Linked DNA regions of Homo sapiens: region 1 is linked to region 2. The links come from fine-mapping of genetic effects on gene expression. A gene starts in region 2. The other region holds a variant in brackets. All regions are shown on one strand. Distances are between the middles of the regions. Region 1 overlaps AOAH (acyloxyacyl hydrolase). Region 2 holds the start of AOAH (acyloxyacyl hydrolase).

The links.
Region 1: its variant is fine-mapped to the expression of AOAH in whole blood (TOPMed, PIP above 0.99).

The regions. Positions count from the first base shown.
Region 1 is chr7:36,587,829-36,600,012 of GRCh38, forward strand. It overlaps AOAH (acyloxyacyl hydrolase), which reads right to left. Exons shown (of 21, transcript NM_001637.4): 12 at 6,511-6,602. It overlaps AOAH-IT1 (AOAH intronic transcript 1), which reads right to left. Exons shown (of 3, transcript NR_046764.1): 1 at 11,915-12,184; 2 at 10,333-10,478; 3 at 10,006-10,054. Among named protein-coding and RNA genes, the nearest start is that of AOAH-IT1, 6.2 kb to the right of the region's middle. The variant C/T (reference allele first, on the strand shown) is at 6,815.
Region 2 is chr7:36,718,324-36,729,090 of GRCh38, forward strand. It overlaps AOAH (acyloxyacyl hydrolase), which reads right to left and starts at 6,171. Exons shown (of 21, transcript NM_001637.4): 1 at 5,699-6,171. The coding sequence starts at 5,825.

The sequences.
Region 1 (12,184 bases), 130 kb before region 2:
CAATTATTTTCCTTGAAACTACAAGCTCATTTCATTCATTTTAGATAAAGTATCTGCCATATATCCAAGTCTGAAAAACCATGATTTGTTATCAAGTAATTTTTCAATAAAAATGGTGTTCCATGAAAAGTTAACTCAGCTCTCATCTCGCCTACACAAGTGCTTTTCCCTAAGACAGCCATCATCCTTTGTTAATTTATTATGCAGTACAAATGCTTTATGCATATTTCACATTTCATCAGATTAAATTATTTAAAAATCAATTTAATAAAATTAATAATGTTTTTTCTGCTTTGTACTATGTGACATTTTTAAGGGAGGATGTCCCCCTCTTGTTTTAAACTGGGAGGTGAAGAACACAGTGACTACTAATAGAGTTTGGTGCCAGCACTTGATTCACGCTAACGTGTCAACAGTTCTACCCACCATTGCTTTTGTACCATCTGTACCAATGGCTACATAGTGGAAAGCCTTAGTATTGTTGTGAAAGTAGTTTTTCACTTGTGGACCCCCTGAGAGGGTCTTAGAGACCCCACAGGGGTTCATGGACCACACTTGGAGAACTGCTGCTATGGACACTATCCCACTCCAATCAGCCTCACCCAACTTCAGAGGACCACCTCTCTGGTTAATTATTTGTTTTGCAAAGTATAATTATAACAGGGCTAATCATTTGCAATTATATCACATGTAATTTGCGAATAATGGATTTAATAAGGTTATTAGGCCCATTAGTGTTTAGTACTTACATGTCCTTTTTTGAAACATGAAATTAGGTTAGCAAATTTTAGCTGCAATTCCCTACTCTCCAATTTTCTGGCTTTACTGCCCCAAGTGACTTGGTTCAGTGTTATACACTGATTTTCAAAATTATTCTCTCATATAACATCTATTGGGTAGGAGAGAATAGATAACCTTTAACGCTTCTATTCTAGGACACCTCTCACTAAAGGTGTGTTTAAATGCCCCTGAAGAGCATTATTGTACCACTTATAACAATGGCTTTGTCTGAGTATTTGCTACATCTTTGGTTCAATATGCCAAATTTAAGCTGGAGGCAGAGGGAGCAACATTTAATCTAGAAAATGTCATCTGGTTTGCACTCATTTATGCTGACTACAGATCTCAGTTTTATTTCTCCAGCTTGGTGTGACAATTTTGGTAGCTGCTTTTGGTTCTTTTGGCCTTCATTGCTTTTTATGATGAATTTTAGCTTTTTACTTTTTTTGAAAAAGCTCTGATTGCTGCCCTGTTTTTCATCCTTATCACTTATCCTTGTCTGCAGAACCCTACTGACTGGACTGACTCCTGGCCCCACCTTCAGAATAAGGGGATACGAACGGCCAGAAATGCTCAGTTTAGATGTGTTGGGTTCAGGTGGCTATTTTTGTTAAGGACTTAGATGCCTGTTTTCCTCTTTTGGGTTTGCTGGAGAGATATAGTAAACATAAAGGACAATAATGGAGTCCCATGTTTATTTAACAGCCTGTCAAGCACTCAATATCACACAACACAGGGCTTACTGTGCATGAGACTGCACTATACCATAGGCTCTATACCCTGGCCAAACACTGTTTCAAGAACTTCAGGCTCTGACCCATAAAGTTAGCCATGTCTTGTCTTGAGGTACAGGCTAGTTAAGGAGTAGGGGAAGACATAGTGGGTAGCAGAAGCAGGAGCATCTCTCTTGAACAATTTCCCTCAGTACTTCTAAACCAAGTAGCGTCATAAAGTAGGATCATGTTGCCCAATAACCATGCCCAATGAGCGTGGGAGAGAACGTCAGAGATCATCTAGTCCAACTTAACTTGAGCACATAAATGAGGTTGAGGAATGCTAAATGTTCCACCTGGAATAACACAGAATGAGCACCCTTATAACTGAAAATACAGACTTCCTTTCACTCTATCATGCCTACTCTGGGATTTTAAATGATGCTTTCAAATGAGAAGTCCTTCCTTCTTGTAAAAGTTTTGGTATTGTTTCCCATCTTTCTACATGTGGTATTAGATCTTTGGTTTCTTTAATGTAAGTAGGATTTTCCTGTTATATGAATTGCTTTGGAAAGTGATCTGAACATGAAGTACAATTTTTAATCTTAATTTTTTTTACTTTTTTATTTTTACTTTTTTAAAGACAGGGTCTTGTTCTGTTGCCCAGGCTGGAGTACAGTGGCGTGATCATAGCTCACAGCAATCTCAGCAATCTCAAACTCCTGGGCTCAAGCAATCTTCCCGTCTCAGCCTCCTGAGTAGCTAAGGACTACAAGTACATGCCACCATGCCAGGCTAATTAAAAAAAAATATTTTTTTAGAGATGAGGTCTTGCTATGTTGCTCAAGCTGATCTCAAACTCCTGGCCTCCAGTAATCTTTTCACCTCAGATGCCCAGTAGCTATTTTTAATCTTTTAAAAATACTTTTTTCTTCCTATTTACAGTTATACTGCTCTATTGCCAAGCTCTTAACCCCCACAGAGATTTTTTTTTTCTGCTTTTGACCTACTCAATCTCTTCCTGAATCACACTGAAGAAAAATCCCAGTATATTTTTTAAGGGATATCACTTATTGAATTTTCTGAAGCCCAAGAGTCAAGAAAACAGTTTTTGTTAACATCAACTCAACTAAAAGAACTAAAGGTTTGTAAAACTAAGGGGTTATGTTTGTCATTTAATGCATGCACATAATTTCAATTAAAGTTATCTATGAAGGGGATAATAAATTTTGAGAGGACAAAGAGCATAAACAAAGAATGAAAGGGAAGGAGCCATTTCCTCTCCTGATGCTTTCACAAGGCACATTTTCCAAAGGACGCTGTTGACACCCATAGCAGAAGGCTGATCATGATGGTAGGAAGCGCATTCTGGAGATCCAGTTGAATAGAGAAATCCGCCAATTCTGTGGATAAGCATTTGGATTCAAAGGGCATGTGCCCAAAATGCCCATGGGAGCTGTATACACCTCTCAGAAGTGCTGCTTCTGGGTCAACATTCTTTTCATTTTCCTGATTCCACAAATGAGGACCTCCATCATATGCTAATCTCTTTGATATTTTTATATACTTTATAACTTTCTATTCCTTTAATAAGGAGATTGGCCTAGCACAAATTATCTGTGAATATAATTTATACAATGGTATATGGATACTTTAGCTGTAACTACTGCTGGGAGGGACATAGCAAATTATGATCCCACAGATGCAGTGTCATGCTGCCTCTGTTTCTGCTTAATGGGGGAATCCATTGCAACTCAGATTCCAAACAGAGAATTTCCTTTTCCATTAAAAGGAGTTGGTATATTCTTCTCCACTCCAGCTGAGTGGCAGCAAACACAGGCACAGTACACAGAAACAGCTGGCAAAAAGAGCATTCTGAGAGGAACAGCTAGGGAGCTTGGGGTCCCACAAACACATAGAAAGAAAAGTTCCTGCAGGGGAGGTGAACAACCAGCTGTGGTGTGTGCCTCGTTAGAAATACAACAGGTAAGGACAGGACTTAGAGTCAACACTAAGGAAGTTGCTTAAGCAGACTATGCGTTTTTTGTAAGCAGTAATAGAGAACCGAATATAAAAAGGTACTAGGTCAATAAAGACTAGCTCAGGATAGAGATGGTTTTCATATAAGCCACACCTAGATGGTCACTTACTTTGTGAGATGGTGTCAGAATTTCTCTGCATAATGCTTATAAGAGTTAGAAACCATTCATGTCTGAAGGCTCTCAACTTTTCCTCTTCCCCTTACCCCATTGCCATGCTTTGATGGAAGATCCTGTCTGCCTGCTGGGCACTGATCAGGATGATGGGTAAAAACTGCTGCAGGATTGAAGAGCTAGTGGGATTTTACATTGATAAGGGAGTAAACCCCTGGTGGGAGGACAGAACAGATGCAGAAAGGAAAAGGGAGCTTTCCCTCTCATCCCCCAATAGAAACTCAAAATGACTGAACAGAGTCTGTTTGGGAGAAGGAGCTAAGTGTGGGTCAAGTTTTGGGGAAGTTTAGATTTAGGAAATACAGAGCAACTACTGGTGTGTGCGAGCTGTAAGCAGAAAGAGATGAGGAAACATGTTTTTATCTGTTTGCTGGGCATGGTGAATGGATTCCTCTTTCATTCCTTGAGTGACTCCAGTAAAGATTTAAACTACTTGGAAATTAATTTTAAATATCGGATCGGTATTTCTTTTATGGCAACTTCATGGGGCCAAAAGGTAGTTGGGATTTATAGAGTCAATATGTAAAAATTTAAGCTTTCATTAAAGGTACAGTAAACTGTGTTCATTGTTCATACCTAATTAATTCTTTTTGTTATTGTCATAAAAGCCTTGATTGAGAGAAAATTCCAGATACTTTTATTGAGAAATGACTAGACTGGGTGGAGGGCATTTAAACATATATATTTTTTTATTTTCTGATGTTGAAATTGGGGGGATGACCAAGGTTCTCTCTTCTATAAACCTGCTTTGGCTGGGTTATCTCTGGATGTGTTCCAGGTAAAGACAACAGAGGCTGTAGCAGAGGGAAGATGGGACTGAGGCTAGGACTCAGAAAGTCCCAGATGTCTGTGCTTATTGGGACCCTAAGGAGGCATATGATGGGTCACTGAAATAGTGCAGGCCACACCTCTACATGGGGAGGACTTCTCTTGGTTCTTAGTCATTTCTCCATCCCATAGCTATGCTCTCACACAGAGGGACAATGGTTAGAGTGAGCCATATTCCCACACAAAGAATAAAAACAACACAAAGTTTGAGAGGCAAGAACATATCTTTGTTATGATATGACACAAGGTTCCATGAAAACAGACCCTACCACTCTTGGCTGGGCAACCTTGGTCAAGATTCTTATTCTGTCTATTTGCCCTTGGATCTCTCAACTGCAAATGCAGAGAACAATACCCACTACCTCACAAGGAGGTTAAATGAGAGAATATCTATACAACACTCAGTAAATGCTTGGCATATAGTTACTTGTTACTTCTCAAAGGTTACTTCTTACTATCCCTATTAGTAAGTATTTTAGTATTTTTACACTAATGACAAGGACTAGCCTTTTTTAAAATAACATGATTAAGTTTGAAAAGGTATAACTACACTGGAAAACACATCTCCTTGGCTTTCCCTATATTGGCAGATTATTTCTATGTAAATATGAGTACGCTTCCCTGAAGGTTAGTTCCCTTCCTAGTTTCTTCTATGCCCCTTTTATGACCCCAGTCTCCCATGTGTTACCCACCCAAAGGAAGTGACTGTTGATCACTTCCATGAACTCTTTTTCCTCGGAGCCCCGTGGCTCTGTAGGAGACCTGTCATTAGTATATCTTCCTTGCATTACCATTATTTGTTCACTTGTCTCATCTGCCTTAATTGCAATTGACTACAAAGATGGGACAAGCCCTATCTACCTTTAAATGGACACCTGTAACATCTGTGCCTGATTAGGTGGTTAAGTATTTAAGAAATATTTTTAAAGCAGATGAATAAAAATCATCAAATAAATTATTCATGGCACACAATGTTCTTTGTTCATCAGAATAATTGCTTGTTAAAATGATTAATGTCTGTCCTTTGGGGGCATTCCTGTTCCTTACAGATTTGGGTAAATCACACCCCATGCACACTTGCCCTCCTCACAGTTCTCATGGCTTATCTCATGGTGCTTTCCAGCCTTCTGCCATTTTTGCCTGAGTCAGAGAGGGGCTTCCTAGCTGGTTCTGTCCTGTCTTTAGACCTAAAAGCAAAGCTCTACCCTTTCTTCTTTTTTACACATGGAAGCCATTCATTTGCCATCTTCCTTGTGCCTATTAACTGTCATAAATGTTTAGGAGATGTTGGGAGAGAAATTGCCTCTCATATCTGTGACATTCTCCCATCCAAGTACTAACCAGGCCCTGCTTACCTTCCAGAGATCAGACAAGATCTGGTGTGTTCAGGGTGGGATGGCCATAGACTCATATCTGTGGTTTACTACCATGTTAGGGACACTTGCCAAGTTTCACCAGCATCACAGGTGTCCCTGCCAAGTGTGGGCCCTGGGAAGCAGACCCCAGGCCTTAACACCCAGGCATATGTAGTGAATTGGGTTTGTGTGTCATTCAAACTCACCAGGCCTGGTCTCTACCTACAAATCTGGGGCATTAAAGCCAGGATGATTCTAGGACTTTGAGAAGTGCCAATCAGCTTTGGCCATTATCTTTACAAATTTATTTCTGAGAACAAATAAGTAAACTTTGTTTTTCCTTGAATCAGAAAATTTCAGTGATGTGTTTAGTATTTTCCATCAGAGGTAAACTATGGAACTCCACCCCCACCCTGCCCATAGCAGGAATATGCTTTTCTTGCCAGTGCTGCTAAAATACAATTTGCATTACATCCTACTGTATGGTGGATGAACTCAAATTCATGTTCTAGAAGCAGTTCCTAATAATTCGCATTTCAACATCTTGGTAGCAACCCCCATCTCTTGTTCTTTCCTTACACAGAGGTATTGAAATGTCTGAGGGTGCACAAAGACACTTACCCAACAGTGGAGTCCAGAAATCCTGTAGCACCAGAGAGTTGGGGCCAGTCAAGCTCGTTGGTAAGGGCTGTTGGTAGATTGATGAAAGAGTTCTAAGGAAAACAATAAAGTAGCAATTATCAAAATGGTCATTTATTTTCTAAAGGTAGTAAGAAAATTCATGGCCTGAGTGTTGCTCTCTGTGTGTCTGTTTCCCACTCTCAATCTCTCGCTTTAAGGGCTTTTGGTATTCAAGGCAGATGTCTCTAACCTTCAACTTCATCAGGGAAGTCACAATGATCAGCACCACCCTTGACCTGGCTTC[C/T]GCTCAGCTCTTGTGAAACATGCAGAACATTTGGCATCTCAAACACTTGGGAGGGATGCTTCAGCAGACTAAACTTCCCATTCTTACATTTTCTGAGATTTTCTCCATTTTGCAGTTTAGGCCATCAGAAAGTCAATCATCTGAAAAGTAATTAATCTGAAAAATAATGCCTAATCCCTCAGAAAAAAATGCCTTCCCTGGGTTCAAAGCTATGGCCTTAAGGCATTAAGGTGGTGCCCTCTGACCTTCTTGGGGGTCTCAGACATTTTTGAGAATCTAATTGTGGTTCCTTTCCCCACAAAAATGCACGTGTATTTAACCTGGCCTGTGATTTCAGGAGGCTCACGGACCCCCTGCAACTCCTGCACAATTTGTCAAGAACTCCTGATACAAAGTGTTGACAAAAATAGGATTCATTTGAACCACATTTCCATGGCTTGTGCAAAATCAGCAAAGAAAAATGTGATGAGTTACAACCTCATTTTACTCCTTTTATGAGTGACTTCTGGGACTAATCTCTCCTGTGGTCTAAATTTTAGAAAAAGCTTATCTAAATTGGTATGTTTGGAATAGGGCTGCCAGATTTAGCAAATAAAAATAAAGGGTACCAGCCAGGTGCTGTGGCTTGTGCCAGTAATCCCAGCACTTTGGGAGGCTGAAGCAGGAGGACTGCTTGAGCCTAGGAGTTTGAGACCAGCCTGGGCAACATAGTTAAAATTGGTTTCTACAAAAAATAACAAATTTGCTAGGTATGATGGCATGTGCCTGTGGTCCCAGCTACATGGGAGGCTGAGACAGGAGGATTGCTTGAGCCCAGGACGTCAAGGCTGCAGTGAGCCATGATCACACCCCACTGTACTCCATCCTGGGCAACAGAGCAAGACTCTGTCTCAAAAATAAATAAATACATACATAAATAATAAAGGATGCCTAGTTAGGTTTGAATTTCAGGCAAACAAGGAATAATTTTTTGGATTAGTATGTCTCATGCATGCAATGGTTGGAACATACTTATACTTGAAAAATTTGTTATTTATCCTAAGCTCAAATTTGACTGAGTATCTTGTATTTTATCTGGGCATCTTTCTTTGGATGAAAGCTTTAAAAGCCAATATTCCCTTTTTGCCTTCGCTGACTGGAAGCCTCCATGAGTGGCTGCAAGAAGCCTTTGTATTTCTCAATATTGAAAATCCGTGCTCCCTTCGGGTAAATGTGAAAACCTTGAGTCCTCCTTTAATGCTATTTTAAAATTTAAAATAAAGTAATGTCTAAAGACAAGCATGTCAAAACAATTGTAGCTTTAGCATAATTTTCCAAATGGCACATGCCCCTGGCCTCCTGCTTTTTTCCTCATCCATGAAGATCCCTCTCCTAAGGAGACTCTGATGCTAGAGGCTGCGAGGGAAAGAAAAGCCATTAACTCCTTGAAAGTATGTCATTGTTCTTTCTTATTGCAAGGTAGTACATGGGTTTGTTTTAGAAATGCAAACATTATAGTCATTTACAATGCAGAAATGAAAGCCCCCCCACCCCCCGTCACCTTCCCCTAAGAGATAACTCTTGTGAGATAACCACGGTTAACAGTTTGTGTCATATATAAAACAGTTTATACGTGAAATCTACCATAAATCTTTAAACTGGGAAAAACTCAATCCTCCTATTTTCAGAGAGATAGAGAATGAGCACTCAAAATAAATAAAATGCAAATTTATATTTCTTAATTGTGGACTGTTATGGGTTGAATTATGTTTCTCGAAAAGATGTGTTGAAGTCTTAACCCCACCTCAGAATGTGACCTTGTTTGGAAATAGAGTCGTTGCAGATGTAACTAGTTAAGAAGAGGTCATACTGGAATAAGATGGGCCCCCAGTCCAGTATGACTGGTCCTTATAAGAAGAGGAGGAGGAAGAGACAGAAATGAAGACACAGGGGGAAGGCCGTGCAATGGTGGAGGCAGAGATTTGAATGATGCTTCTGCAATCCAGTTAATGGCAAAGATTGCCAGCTGTCTCCAGAAGCTGGAAGAGAGGCATGGAATAAATGTTTTCACAGACCCCCAAGAAGGAACTAACCCTGCTGACATCTTGATCTCAGACTTCCAGCCTCCAGAATTCTGGGGCAATCAATTTACGTTGTTTTCAGCCACCCAGCTTGTGGTACTTTGATATGGCAGCCAAGGAAACTAATACATGGCTTGAATCGGACAATATGCTTGTTGCTTTTATTATTCAAAGGGCTAAGACATGAACCCCTTTACTATGTTTACTTTCAAAATAATTCCTAGAACAAACAAATGTGTTCAAACGCAGCAGCAGTCATCCCATGATATCCTGTATATTTTCTGTGGGTCTCTGAGCTTCCTCTGCTCCTCCTTCTTCAATTGCCTCCTCCTTCCACACATGCCACGAAACCTCCATCCTTATTCTTATCCTAAGTGTGATTTCCAGCACGGTAGGGGCTGGAAGAGGGAGGAGTTGGTCAGGAAGTATGGCGTCCTGGGATGCACCTGTATTAATGATGATTTATCCTCTTTAAAAACCAGAAACAACCCCATAGAAAGAAAGCTCCCAGTAAATCTCAGAGGACCATGCAGTCTCAGTGACAGGTACTTTGTCACCCCTTAGCATTCAGCACCCACCACTTTCTGCTCGAGACTCCACCATTACTGTGACTCAGCTATTATCTGTTTGAGTTTCTATTTCTCCTGCCACTACAAAGCAAAACTTTTCTCTGTGTTTTATCTTATTTTTCCCTACATCTTTCTGCTTACAATGTGTGTTTACTGTAGGATGAGAATATTCATTCTGCCAGACAAGACAAGAAAAACAAATAGAATGGATGAAACTCACAAGATATGTTTAGCAGAGATAGTGAGTAAGCAAGTGGCTTGCGAGATGCAGGCAGAATTTATGAGCTGTGTTGAGTCAGTAACCTGCAAAACACGTTGAAACTTACAAGAATGATATGGTTCTTTTCCACCCCACTCCCTCACCTTTTTCTCTGTCATCCGTGCAATGGCAACTCCAGACTTGGGAAACTGGATGAGGAACTAGGTTTCTGATTCTGTCTGGGACTGCTCTCCCTTTCACAGGAAGGAGTTAGACAAGAACTACGCAGGCATAGGCATACCCTCTGTAGCCTGGCACACTAAGGGAGGGGTAAATAATTCTGAAGTGTGCCAGCAAAGTAGAGAAAGGGCTTTGCTCTAGAAATCGGATGATCTGTCTTCTGCGTCTGGCTCTACAAATACAAAGAAGAAACACAAATCAAGAAAACTCCATGATTGGATCTGACACCACTGGAAATAAGTTCCATACCCCCGGCAACCCTCATTCTCGGTCAGGGGTGGGTGATGAACTTCTTGTCTTCAGTGGCGGAAGAGGGGATGTCGAGAGGAGGGGTAGGGTAGGTGGGAAAACGGCAGGCAATCCTGTCTTGGGAAGTGGGATCTCCATGTTGCTAACACTCTCCAAGCTCAGTTCTCTGTGGATTAATCTGAAGAAATGGGACTCAGCTACCTGGGAGATTCCTGGAATCCTTGCTGATATCTCAGAAACTAGTTAGTCTTGGAATCATCCCCATTAGGATTTCAGCTGGAGTGGACAGTGGCTGGTGCTGAATCACAACTGGGGCCAGGGTGAGTTTGTATTCCTCAGCGGGAGCCCTGGAAGGCCCAGGCAGACCAGGTCACTCGATGAACTTCAAAATATAGCAAACCTGTGCTTTCCTGGTTGAATGTTTTAGACTTCACTTCTGGTGTTAAGCCAAGGCTTTACTGTTATTAGTGTGCAAACTTGGGGAAGATGTATTTCAGTTTCAGTATCTCCAATGACTATAGAAATATCACCTTATTTACTTCAGCAAAACTGTGAGGAAGACCAAAAGACACAGTCAGAAGCAGGTTGACAAGTCAGAGCCCTACTATGTGAAGCATCATGTTTAGGGCAGACCACCTAGTGTCCCTTTCCAAGTGAACTGTCCCAGGTTTAAGAGGAGTGACATTTATTTGCCAGATAATAGAAAAGGTTTGAGCACACTAATAGAAGCCTTGGCATATTTTTTTTCCTTAGTAAATTTGGTAGATAAAAATGAAAAGTAGTGGCTATTAATAGCAAATGTTTTATAGACCCTAGCAAAAAGAGAATGTTTAAGTCCTATCACATTAAACACTAAAAGCCTTATTCACGCAACATTATATCCAAGATACTTCAGGCATTTGAGGCAGGAGGAATGCAAATTAAGATTTTCCTCATCAACTCCTGCTTATTCCTCTTGAGCATTTATGTTCTTAGGAAACTCGTTTTAAATGTACCTTAAATGTACATATGTGAAAAAGACTGAATATTTACCAAGAAAAATTTTCCAAACTTAAAGAGCGTGAGCAACCTAGTGAGTGTTAGATCACTACCGCATTGCTTCAAAATTTCTTCTGACCTTTATCAATGATAGATATTTATTTTTACAGCATAGTTGGCACATGTTTACTATTTTGTGTAATAGTTTCATTTAACGTTTCCCTGTGTGTGGGTATGTGTGTGTGTATTTCCATGCATCGAGAAAGCCCACTGGTTCCCATTTTTGATGGATATTTAGTAAATACAATAATTCGAATTTGGTAATATTTTAAGCCCTAATGTCAGCAAGCAATTGATGTTCTTAAAGCTTTGTTGTGTGGGAGAAAGAGAGTAATGACACCAATCCCTCATTCATCTGATTCTGCCAGTCTTCCAGCAAAGCAGGGAGTATCCTCAGTGCCTTTCCTTCACTGTTTACATTTGGGCTCTCTCCATCCTGCACTGCTGTGGACAATCTACACAGTATATTCCCTTTTCTATTACATGTACCTGCATTAGACCTGAATGGATTATTTTCAAACAGTACAAAGTCACTTGGAGGAATCTAAGTAACTGCTGTTGGAAAAAGATAAAAAATGTCATCACCAGTTAAATAAGCATTGTTTTATCCATTCCCCAGAATTAAAGTCTCAAAGCAGATGGGGGATTGTTACTTTACCAAAAAAAGAAAATAGCTCTTGGGTTGGTATTTTTAATAACGCTGGAGAGTTTCAAGGCCCGGGAATCAAAGACAAGGGCTACCTGCTTAGCGTTGGAACCATGGGTCTCCCAGTTCCGCTAGTTGGCTCCTCCTCCGTCTGTCCTGCAGTGGCGCTTGCAGAAGGTAAGCAGGGTTCCTCCTGCTTTCTGCCTCTCAGTCCCACCGTGCCACCACACTGCCTCCCATCTGCTCAGGTCCCCACCGCTCCCATTACCTTAGTGCCTTTCTTGTGGGAGCACCACATTATGCAACTTTCAGAGCCTTCCTTGGCTTTCACACACACTTTCCTGCCAGACTCCCATTTCTGTAGCCTCT
Region 2 (10,767 bases):
GGAGAAGTTACAACTTTCATACACCGCTGGTAGAAATGTAAAATGGTGCAGCTGCTTGGAAAATAGTTTGGCAGTTCCTCAAAATGTTAAAGATGGTATTACCGCATGCCCTAGAAATTCCACTCCTAGGTATATACCCAAAAGAAATAAAAACACATGTCTACACAAAATCTTGTACATGAATATTCATAGCAGAATTATTCATAATTACCAAGAAGTGAAAACAACTCAAATGTTCATCAACAATGAATAAATAACAAAACCAAGTATGTCCATACAATGGAATATTATTCAGCTGTAAGAAGAAACAGGGTTGATACATGCCACAACATGAATGAACCTTGAAAACATTATGCTAAGTCAAAGAGGCCTGTAGCAAAAGGCCATGTTTTATATTATCGTATTTATGTGAAATGCCCATAGAGACAGGAAGTAGAGTGGTGATTTCCAAGGGCTATAGAGAGAAGGAAATGGGGAGTAAATGCTAAGAGAATTGGATTTTTGGGGGGAGCAGTGAAATGTTCTGGAATTAGATATTGGTGATCAATGCACAACTCATGAATATACTAAATGCCACTTTTACACTTTAAAAGAGTGAAGTTTATGATACATGAATTATATTTCTCAATAAAGCTGTTATTTAAAACAATATGGGAAAAATATTTTACCCTGATTTAATCACATCAACAATAACATAATCATAATTAAAGCGAGGAATAAGCCAAGTTTTAACTAACTATGTAACCTTGAACAAGTTACTTATTTCTGTCTTTATTTTTTCGCCTACCAAACAAGGATAATGATAATACAGACTTCATAAGGTCATTGTAATGATTAAATGGGTTAGTACACATAAATCTTTTGGAAGATGGCTTATCATACAGTCAGTGTCCAATAAATGTTGGCAATTATTATAATTATTAACTCGCAAATGTAATTTGTGTGGCTGAAGAGCACTTGGCTGTAGTGACTTTCTCCAGGCATCACTCCAATTAGTCCACATTCAAGTCAGAGAAAAGATGGAAGGTACAACCCCCACGGAGAAGTGTTGGGGAGACCAGTAGCAAAACAAACTTTATGAGTAAGAAGCAAATTTGATTACTCAACAATAATCTTCATAAAAATGGATGAAACCCAACTAGTTCAGTTGATCTTGAAGAAAAATAGGAAGGAAGAACTTCTTCCATGTGTTGGGAAGGTGATATAAATATTTTAGGTTATTATGATCTTACAAATCAAGGCAAGGATATCCTTTTATGATCAAGGTAAGAATTTATGTTGGAATGGCAATTAAAAGACAGCTGACAACTAACAAAAATGAAGAGGGCTGGACACGGTGGCTCATGCTTATAATCCCAGCACTTTGGGAGGCTGAGGCAGACAGATTGCTTGGGCCCAGAAGTTTGAGACCAGCCTGGACAACATAATGAGACCCTGTCTCCACGAAAATAAAAATAAAACAATTAGGCAGGCATGGTGGTGTGCACCTGTAGTCCCAGTTACACAGGAGGCTGAGGTGGGAGGATCACTAGAGCCTGGGCTGTTGAGGCTTCAGTGTGCTATAATTGTACCACTGCACTGTAGCCTGGGTGATAGAGTAGGACTTTGTCTTTATTAAAAAAAAAAAAAAGATGAATCATTCTTGCTCAGATGGGATGATCAGAAATCCAGCTGCCTAATCACCTTTTGCTCAGAAAAGTTTCTGTGGCCTGGGTTCTTTCAGCAAGCAGGTGAATGCAACAGAATCTTTGAGATAACTGAAGCTTCCTTCTTTGACTAGCAATATTCAGGTAGAAATGTTTCTAGAATTCTAAAGTTTTTTTTTTTGTTTTGTTTTGTTTTTTGAGATGGAGTCTCGCTCTGTCGCCCAGGCTGGAGCGTGGTGATGTGATCTCGGCTCACTGCAACCTCTGCCTCCTGGGTTCAAGCGATTCTTCTGCCTCAGCTCCCTGAGTAGCTGGGACTACAGGCATGCCCCACCGTGTCCTGCTAATTTTTGTATATCTATATTTACATTTTTTTTTTTTTTAGTAGAGACAGGGTTTCACCATATTGACCAGGCAGGTCTCAATCTGCTGACCTCGTGATCTGCCCACCTCAGCATCCCAAAGTGCTGGGATTACAGGCGTAAGCCACCACACACGACCTAAAATCTTAAAGTTTTAAACACTCTTTTTGAGGCTATTACTTCACCTTCCCCAGGTGGCTTTATGAGCGGAGTCTGCAGTGCCTGCTTCCAAGCTATGAGCCTCTGCCCTGCACTTCATGGTGCTCTGCTGGCTCTGGCATTGGCAGTTTAAAGAGTTTTAGAGAAAGGGTATTATCAAGGGCACTAAGGGCCCAGTTCAACATTCATTTTAAAGGACTGTAATCTTTACAAGGCTCCAGGTTTTCGTTTTCCTCTAAACTGGACAGTGAATTTCCTGAAGACAGACATTCTAAAAATCCTTCCTCTCCTTCATCTGTGTATCCCTGCTCTCGCATATTCAGTGGCCATGTGAGAACTGAGTGCGCGGAAATGTTTGGGGACCACCTTTCTGCTGGAGGGTTTGAAGTCATGTAACCCTGCTTTTTGTCAGAAAGTTGTTAGGGTGTTGGCAACAAATGTAGAGTTAGAAGAACTCCAATCAACAATTCCTTCTCTTTTCTCCTCTCTTCCACACACTTCTTCCTCTTCCCACCAGCTGCGAGAGAGCGGACCTCACTGCTTCCTGAGATGCTTCCCACATACAACCCTTCCAGCAGGTACACCCCAGGATCCCGTATCAGGAGACACTCGCTCCCCAGCTTCTGGAGCCATTGGTCTGAAGGATTATGCCAGCATCAGAGTCCCTTGCCAGAACTGTCTCCACCAACGGGAGATGTCTCAAAATTACAGCCCTCCCCTGTGGTCAGGTCACATCGAGGGACTGTTTGATGTGGGAATTCCAAGACCTGCACCTACTTCAGGACAACTCTGAAGAGCTATTTTAGTCCCAGAGCTCTCAGTGGGACTTCTTTTATGGCTGCAGCACAGCCCGGCTTCTCTCTGCCAACCCCACTGCCTTCCTCTCTTGCTCGTCTTTTTGCCAAGAGCACTTCTCAATAAACTCCCCTGCACACACATTTCTAATCCTGTCTCCCCCAAAAGCCAACTTCAATCAGTGAAGCACCAAGTTGGACCACCTTCAGCCCCTGTCTCAGCACATAGGCAGTGCTCAGTAAGTGTTCATCACAAGACTGGACTCCTCTTGCACCCACCTTTCTTGCTATTATGACAACAGGTGAATAAGTCACCCAGGCAGAGTTAACCAGAAGAAGTTGGGAGTTGCTGGGAAAATGGATGCTAAATCATCCTCAAACCTAATCAGCAACAGAGTCTCCAAGCCCTTGGGGCCATGAGAATTTGTATGGGCAACCAAAGTGAACCTCTGTGAATGATAGAGATGACCACACATTTCTTGACCCTCTCCATCAAAATGAAGGGTCTCTGCCCCCTCCCTTTGAGTCTGGGTGGAGGAACTTGTGAATGCTTTGAGCAATGGAAGATGGCAAGTAATGCTGTGCCTGTTTCCAGACCCAAAACTTGAAAGATTGGCAGCTTCTAATTCCTGTCTTTTGGAATTCTCTCTGGGATTCCTAAGCTGCCAGGTAAGAAAGCCTACTACCCAAGATAGCCATGTGTGGGCACTCTGATGGCACTCCCAGATGAGCCAACCCTCTAGCCATTCCCTCACCCCTAAGGTGCCAAATATGTGAGTGAAGCTGTTTTTGTCAGTCCCAGATCCATCAATCCACCATCCGAATACCACCTCCTAACCTCGGTCACTCCTACATGGAGAAGAAGAATCACCAGCCAGTGTTCGAACAAATTTTTCACCCATAAAATCATAATACAACAAATGGTTATTATTGTAATTTTTGATGCAGCAATAATAGAAAAACCAGAGCAACCCCATCCTGAAATCTCCCCAACACCTCCTTCTTACCCTCTATGACCTCACTGGGAACAGGGCAGAGAAAGGAATGTGTACCTCCTGTCCATTTTACTGAAGTGAAGGTCCAAGGATCTCAGCCCTGACAACTTGCCCAAACTCAAACATTTAGTTTGCAATGAGCCCAGAAGTAAAACTGATTTCATCTGAGCTTTTCTCAAGTGTATTTCCATTTGATGGGCAGTAGGGTTTTGTTTTGAGAAAAATGAAAAGGTGGCAAATAGTTATTTAAGGAAACCAAATACTGGGGGAGGATGATCTCCCAGGCATGGTTCAAAGGACCACACACCTCTGCCTTCAGGTCTCTGGAAAATAGTCTTGGGGAATCTGGGTCTTAATTAAAACAAGACTTTGGAGGCTGGGCGCGGTGGCTCATGCCTGTAATCCCAGCACTTTGGGAGCCAAGGGGGGCGGATCACGAGGTCAGGAGTTCGAGACCAGTGTGGCCAACATAGGGAAACCCCATCTCTACTAAAAATACAAAAAATTAGCTGGGTGTGGTGGTGTGCATCTGTAATCCCAGCTACTCCGAAGGCTGAGGCAGGAGAATTGTGTGAACCAGGGAGGCAGAGGTTGCAGTGAGCTGAGACTGCACCATTGTACTCCAGCCCAGGTGACAGTGCGATAATCCATCTCAGAAAAAAAAAAAAAAAAAAAAAAAAAAGGACTTTGGAAGTAGAGATGCATCTCCTAACATGTACAATGACCTGAGGCCATGATTTTGAGGAAGTAGGACAAATTCAGATATATTTCCATATTGTCTCCAGAAACAATTCCTAAGTGTCAGAATCTGTGTCCAGATTTTCCATTTGCAGCATGTAGCCATCAGACTTATCCTAGAGTTATTTTCCTGGCTTCTCAAGCTAGGATTGTATTTTGAGGTCTGCTCATTGAACAATTACTTACTACTCAGAGTTCTGAGTCTATGTGGCTCCATGGACTGTACCATCTAAATGCCACCACTATTATGAGAATTCCCATGTTATGAGAGCTACAATGTGAATATCAAAGATCTTACCTTACTTCCTGCTCTCATCCAAAAAAAACAAACAAAAAAAACCTCTTGGAAATAAAACACTTCATTAACAGATGAGCCAAGAAGCCATATCAACGCTCAGCGTCTCCAGGTGATCGCCAAATCTGGATTCTCTGAGAGACGGAAGGAAGCTAAGATGGTTGAGTCCTTACTGTGTGCACATGCCACAGATTTACATGCATGGTCACAATTTCCATGGTATCCCTATGAGATGGGTCTCACTCACTTCAGTTCACCAATAAGGACACAGAAGCATGGAGAGGGTTAAGTACATTGCTCCAGGTTTCCACAGCCAGTAGGAAATGGGAGAGAAGGGTAGGAGGAGGGCAGTGATTCAAACTCAGATGTGTTTATATGAGGTCAAAGCCCATGAAAAGCAGTAAAAATTTCAGACTAAAATAGCCTGAAATAATAGTTACCTATACAAGAAGAAAAAATTCCAATCGCCAATGAGGTGGAAGAGTTTTATGCCCAATTTAAACTAGTATGCTTTTTATTCACATAGATGTATGTAGTGTCAATGTCTACTCTTAGACTCCACATTTCTCTGTGTCAGTGAGGTTACTGGTGCCTTACCTGGAATCTTACAATTCTTGATTTAATAAAATATGTGATTTATTACGCAAGCAAAGTACTGGATCCCATTGTTATGTCTACATAGAAAATACAAAAATATTTATTTGCATACCTACACAGGTGTGCCCATTCGAGAGGCTGGGCCTGGACTGGTCATCGTTGGCTGGAGAGGCCGAGGACTGAAGAGACAGGAGCAAGAATAGAGGCGCCACCGTAAGGATTTTCCAGGGGGACTGCATCTCCGAGCTATGCACCCCAAGTGATCACCCGGCTTTGGAAGCTCCCAACTGAGGGATGCTGGAGCTGAGGCTGCAGAATCAATTGATCTCTCTCTCCTTCTCTTCCTCACTCTCTTTGACACACACACCCCACCCTCTCACATACACACTTTTCAATAAGTGTGAAGTGAATAAAAGCACACATAAACACTCACAGACCCACAGCTTGCTCTTGTTGGACCCTGAGAGAGCCACACACAAAGAGCTGGAGGGAGTCTGTGGTGTGCGGTTCTGCTGAGGTAAAGACTGCAGGATAAAGAAAACCCAAGTTGCACAGTGGCACAACTTCCGTGCTCCCTGGCTCAGTGAAGTTAGTGTGCATAAACCCCGTGAGCCTCGAGGCTTGCCGGAACTGATCTGTTGGGTTGGTTAGGAGGCCCTTCCCCTTTCATTCTTGCAAAACAAAACAAAACGATACTAAAGCCAAAACTGAGAAGAAAAAAGAAAAAAAAAACTAATCCACAAGCACACAACCCTTTAACAATTTGATCAGCAGCACCCACATATTGTAGAAATTCTAATTGGTTACATTCAGAACTTACTTAGTCTTGTTTTCAACAGCTTTATATGGTAAGGTTGTGATCCTTATTTTGTTGTAAAAGGATATTCTGGTCAAATAATATCTTTCCTCTGGAGAAATTGGGTTATTCCTTGAAGGGTCAAGGCCTTTTATTTGGTGTGCAGAAAATAAACAGTACAGAAAATAATGGGCAGTTAGCATGGTGGGATTTTAGACCTAATGAGAAAAAACATGGGTTAGAATTAATCAATTCACAGTTGCTAGGCTGTGCACAATGCATCTTTTTTTTCTCCAGAATTTCGAAGTGCATTTTGTGGATGATTTGTTAAGAGACTGATTTTCTGCTCTGAAGAATAGAACTGAACACTGTCTTTCTGAGGGAAAAAAAAAATCGGAACCAGATCATAGATAAAAGACATATAATCTAAATGTTTCTCTCTAAAATAAGATAAAACAAAATCATATGCCATTCTCAGTCAAGATAAGAGGACAGGGCCAAAGTACCACAGTCTAGGTAAGTGTAGGAGGTCATGAGATTCTGTTTCTCTCTGCTTAGGCTCTGAGGGAGCTTATTACAAATTTTGAAATATTATAGAAGCTATCTAAATTGTTAGCAATTAAAAAAAATAGCATTTGGAGTAGCAGGCAAAGTTTTAGAGTAGCATCCTTTCCAGGATGTAGGAAATACCAGTTTTTATGGTTGGAAGATTTCTTGTGCAGTCATTAGTCTTACAAGCACCGATGGGGCTACAATTCCCAAACCTGCTGCAGAGATAGCACAAGTCAGAGTGTTTCCCTAATTACACTTCCAGCCCAATACTGAGGATATCGTTAGGCGTCCATGGGCCTGTGACTTCCTCTGACTCTAAGGTGCTGCTGCTTCAGTTCTTCACTCTGTGACTAAGGGGAGCTCTGGGGTCACTAGGACCACCACAGGGGTGAGGCCTAGAGAAGTTCCAGAGACTTCCAAGGGAGGCTAAATAAAGGACTGATTGATTAGGAACTCAGATTGTGAAGACAGAAAGGCTCATGCTTACGTCTCATGTCTACTGTTTATTCTGAGTAATATATTAGACCAGTGATGTAACTTTCCCCCCTTCAGTGTCTTGTTTTTGTTGTTGTTGTTGTTGTTTGTTTGTTTTTTGAGACAGGGCCTTGCTTTTTCATCCAGGCTGGAGTGCAGTGGTGTGATCACAGCTCACTGCAGTGTTGACCTCCTGGGTTCAAGTGATCTTCCCACCTCAGCCTCCCAAGTAGCTCATTTCTATTGGGATAATGGTAATATCCGCTCCAATGCGCTGCTGGAAGCACTCGAATACATGATGTATCCAAACAACAAAGCAGCATGGCTGGCAAGAAGTAAGTGCTTAGTGCATCTGTCTATGACTCTAGCAGGAGTGTGATGAAACCTGCACCCCAGACCAGCTTCAAGAGAATTCCAAGACGCCCATGGTAGTTGTAGGCCATCATGTCATACATGGGAAATGGTGAGGACAGGAAAAGGGAGGATTTATTGAATACCTTCCAGCTGTGCTACAGCACTCCAGGAGTGTGTGGTCTAGTTTGTCTAATCCATAAATGGGTGAGGACTCTCCTGAGGGCTTCTGGAAGAGCATTTGACACAGGCTTTGGGCCTCTTGAGGCTCTCCTGGTCTCAATGTATAGCTGCGAGCAGGTCTGGAAACTCTTAGAGTGAGAGGGATTTCTTGGTATGCCGGAAATGCAAGTTTTGTGCCCTTCATCGCATGTATGTGGGCCAGGCAGTGCCATTCACAACCATCCCAGGGATGGTCGGCTCTGAAACTCTCTAGTGTGCTCAGGCTTCGGGGCTGGTCACAGTGGGAGTCGCTGACTTAGCTGTGCAGTATTGAGCAAGCCCCTTCCTGTTTCCAGAGGTGACAGTCCTCAGCTAGAAAAGGGAGGTGAGACTATCTACTTCGTAGGAATATATCATGGTAAAACCTGACACATAGGTTTTCAGTAATGGAAGGATTTTTCATGCTTGGAGGGTGAGTTCTTACTGGGCATGATCAAAGGAAGAATGCAGAAATCAGAAAGTGATTTCGCCAGCAGAAGCTGGAACAAAGTGCACGTGTGCACAGACCACTGAACAAAACATCCCTCTCCGTCACCAGGATGGAGTGGACCCTCCCATTTGCACAGTTGTCCTTCACACTGGCTGGTATCATTGCCCCTGACAGGGCTGCCTTTGCTCATCAAGTACTGAGTGCAAATGACTTGGGATCTTTGCACAGCTTGCCAAAAGGCCCTGGACCTACCTGTGGTTTAGAACAACTAGTCAGGCCCTGGAGAATGTTCCTGCAGGACCCCACTGTCAGATGTTCCAATTTTGAATCATCTCGAAATCTGCTCTTGAAAATGAGATTTCTTCCCTGAAGCACTTTGTTACTGATTTCACTCAAACAGCTCTGATTCAAACCACTGCTTTCCCCTGTGCCATGGAAGGCTAAGGCTTTGTGATCCCCAAGTGTTGCACCTGTGGTCTGCTTGTTCAGTATGAATATGCTTCCTGAATATTTTTTGACCACATTGGCCTCAACCACCTCATCCACAGCAAGTTCCTTAATCAGAAAAAAAAAAAAAAAAAAAAGAGGTGGGTGATGGGAGATCCTGTAAAAGCTGGCACTGTCACCAACACGTGTCTCGTCTTAGACTTTCTCCTCTCTCTAAGGCCCAGGTCCATGCTGCCCTGTTACTCCTGGCTGCCCAGGACTGTGTACAGCAGTCCTCAGTTCCCATCTACCAAAACCAGGCCCTCTGCTGCTCCCCTCCTCCTCAGTCAGAGCTTATTAACGCTAGCCTCATTCTATTCTGTTCTGCTGTCTGCTAAGGACAGGGTAAATTAACCCATGCTGAGGATGCATGGGGGCTCATTAAAAGAGCTCTGGGCTAGGATGGGGGGCCTGTGTCATGGGCTCCCCTCCTAGTAGCTGTGTGCCCTGGGTAAGCTGCTCCACCTTTCAGAATACCAGTTTATTTTACTATAGAATAGGGCATATAATGTCAATATTTAAGAAAATTGTGAGAATTAGAGAGACAACATGAATTTAAAAACATAATATTAACTGTTAGATGAATGTGAAGCTGACAATGAATTCACATTATTCTTCTCAAGTAGCATTGAAATTTTGGGGGAAGTTTTTTAAATCAAGATTTTAAAAATTGCTACATAATAACTGTACATATTTCTGGTGTACATGTGACATTTCAATACGTGCATGCAATGTGTAATGATCAAATTAGGGTAATTAGGATATCCGTCATCTCAAATATGTATCATTTCTTTGTCTTGGAAACATTTAAAATTCTCTTTTCCAGCTATTTTGAAATATACAATGAATTGTTGTTAACCAAAGTCACCCTACTGTGCTATTCAACACCAGGACTTATTCCATCTAACTGTATTTCTGTAGCCATTAATCAATCTCTCTTTATTCACCCTTTCCCACCCTTCCAAGTCTCTGGTATCTATCGTTCTATTCTCTACCTCCTTGAGATCACCTTCTTTAGTTTCCACAAGTGAGTGAGAACATGCAGTATTTGTCTTGCTGTGCCTGGCTTATTTCACTTAACATAATAACCTCCAGTTTCATCCATGTCGATGCAAATGACAGGATTTCATTCTTCTTAATGGCCAGATGGTATTCCATTGTGTACATGTACCACATTTTCTTTATCCATTTATCTGTTGATGGACACTTAAGTTGATTTCATACCTTGACTGCTGTGGCTAGTGCTGCAATAAACATGGGTTTATACTACAAAGTATGTCAGTATACCTTTCCAACATACTGATTTTCTTTTGAATACATAACCAGCAGTGGGATTGATAGATTATATATTAGATCTATTTTTAGTTGTTTGAGGAAGCTCCATACTGTTTTCTATAGTGGGCTGTACCATTTATAATCCCACCAACAGTGTGCTAGTAGTGCCCTTTCAAAGCATCCTTACCAGCATCAGTTATTTTTGTCTTTTTGATGATAGCCATTTTAATTGGGGTGAGATGATATTTCAGGGTGACTTTGATTTGCATTTCCCTCATGATTCATGATGCTGAGCATTTTTAAATATACCTGTTGGCCATTTGAATGTCTTCTTTTGAGAAATATCTATTCAGATCCTTTGCCCATTTTCTAATCAGGTTTTTTGCTGTTGTTTGAGCTCCTTGTATATTCTGGCTATTAATTCCTTGTCAGGTAGGTAGTTTACAAATATTTTCTCCCATTCTGCAGATTGTCTCTTCACTCTGTTGATTGTTTCCTTTGCTATGCAAAAAGTTTTTAGCTTGATGTAGTCTCATTTGTCTATTTTTGCTTTTATTGCCTATGCTTTTGAGTTCTTACCCAAAGAGTCTTTGCC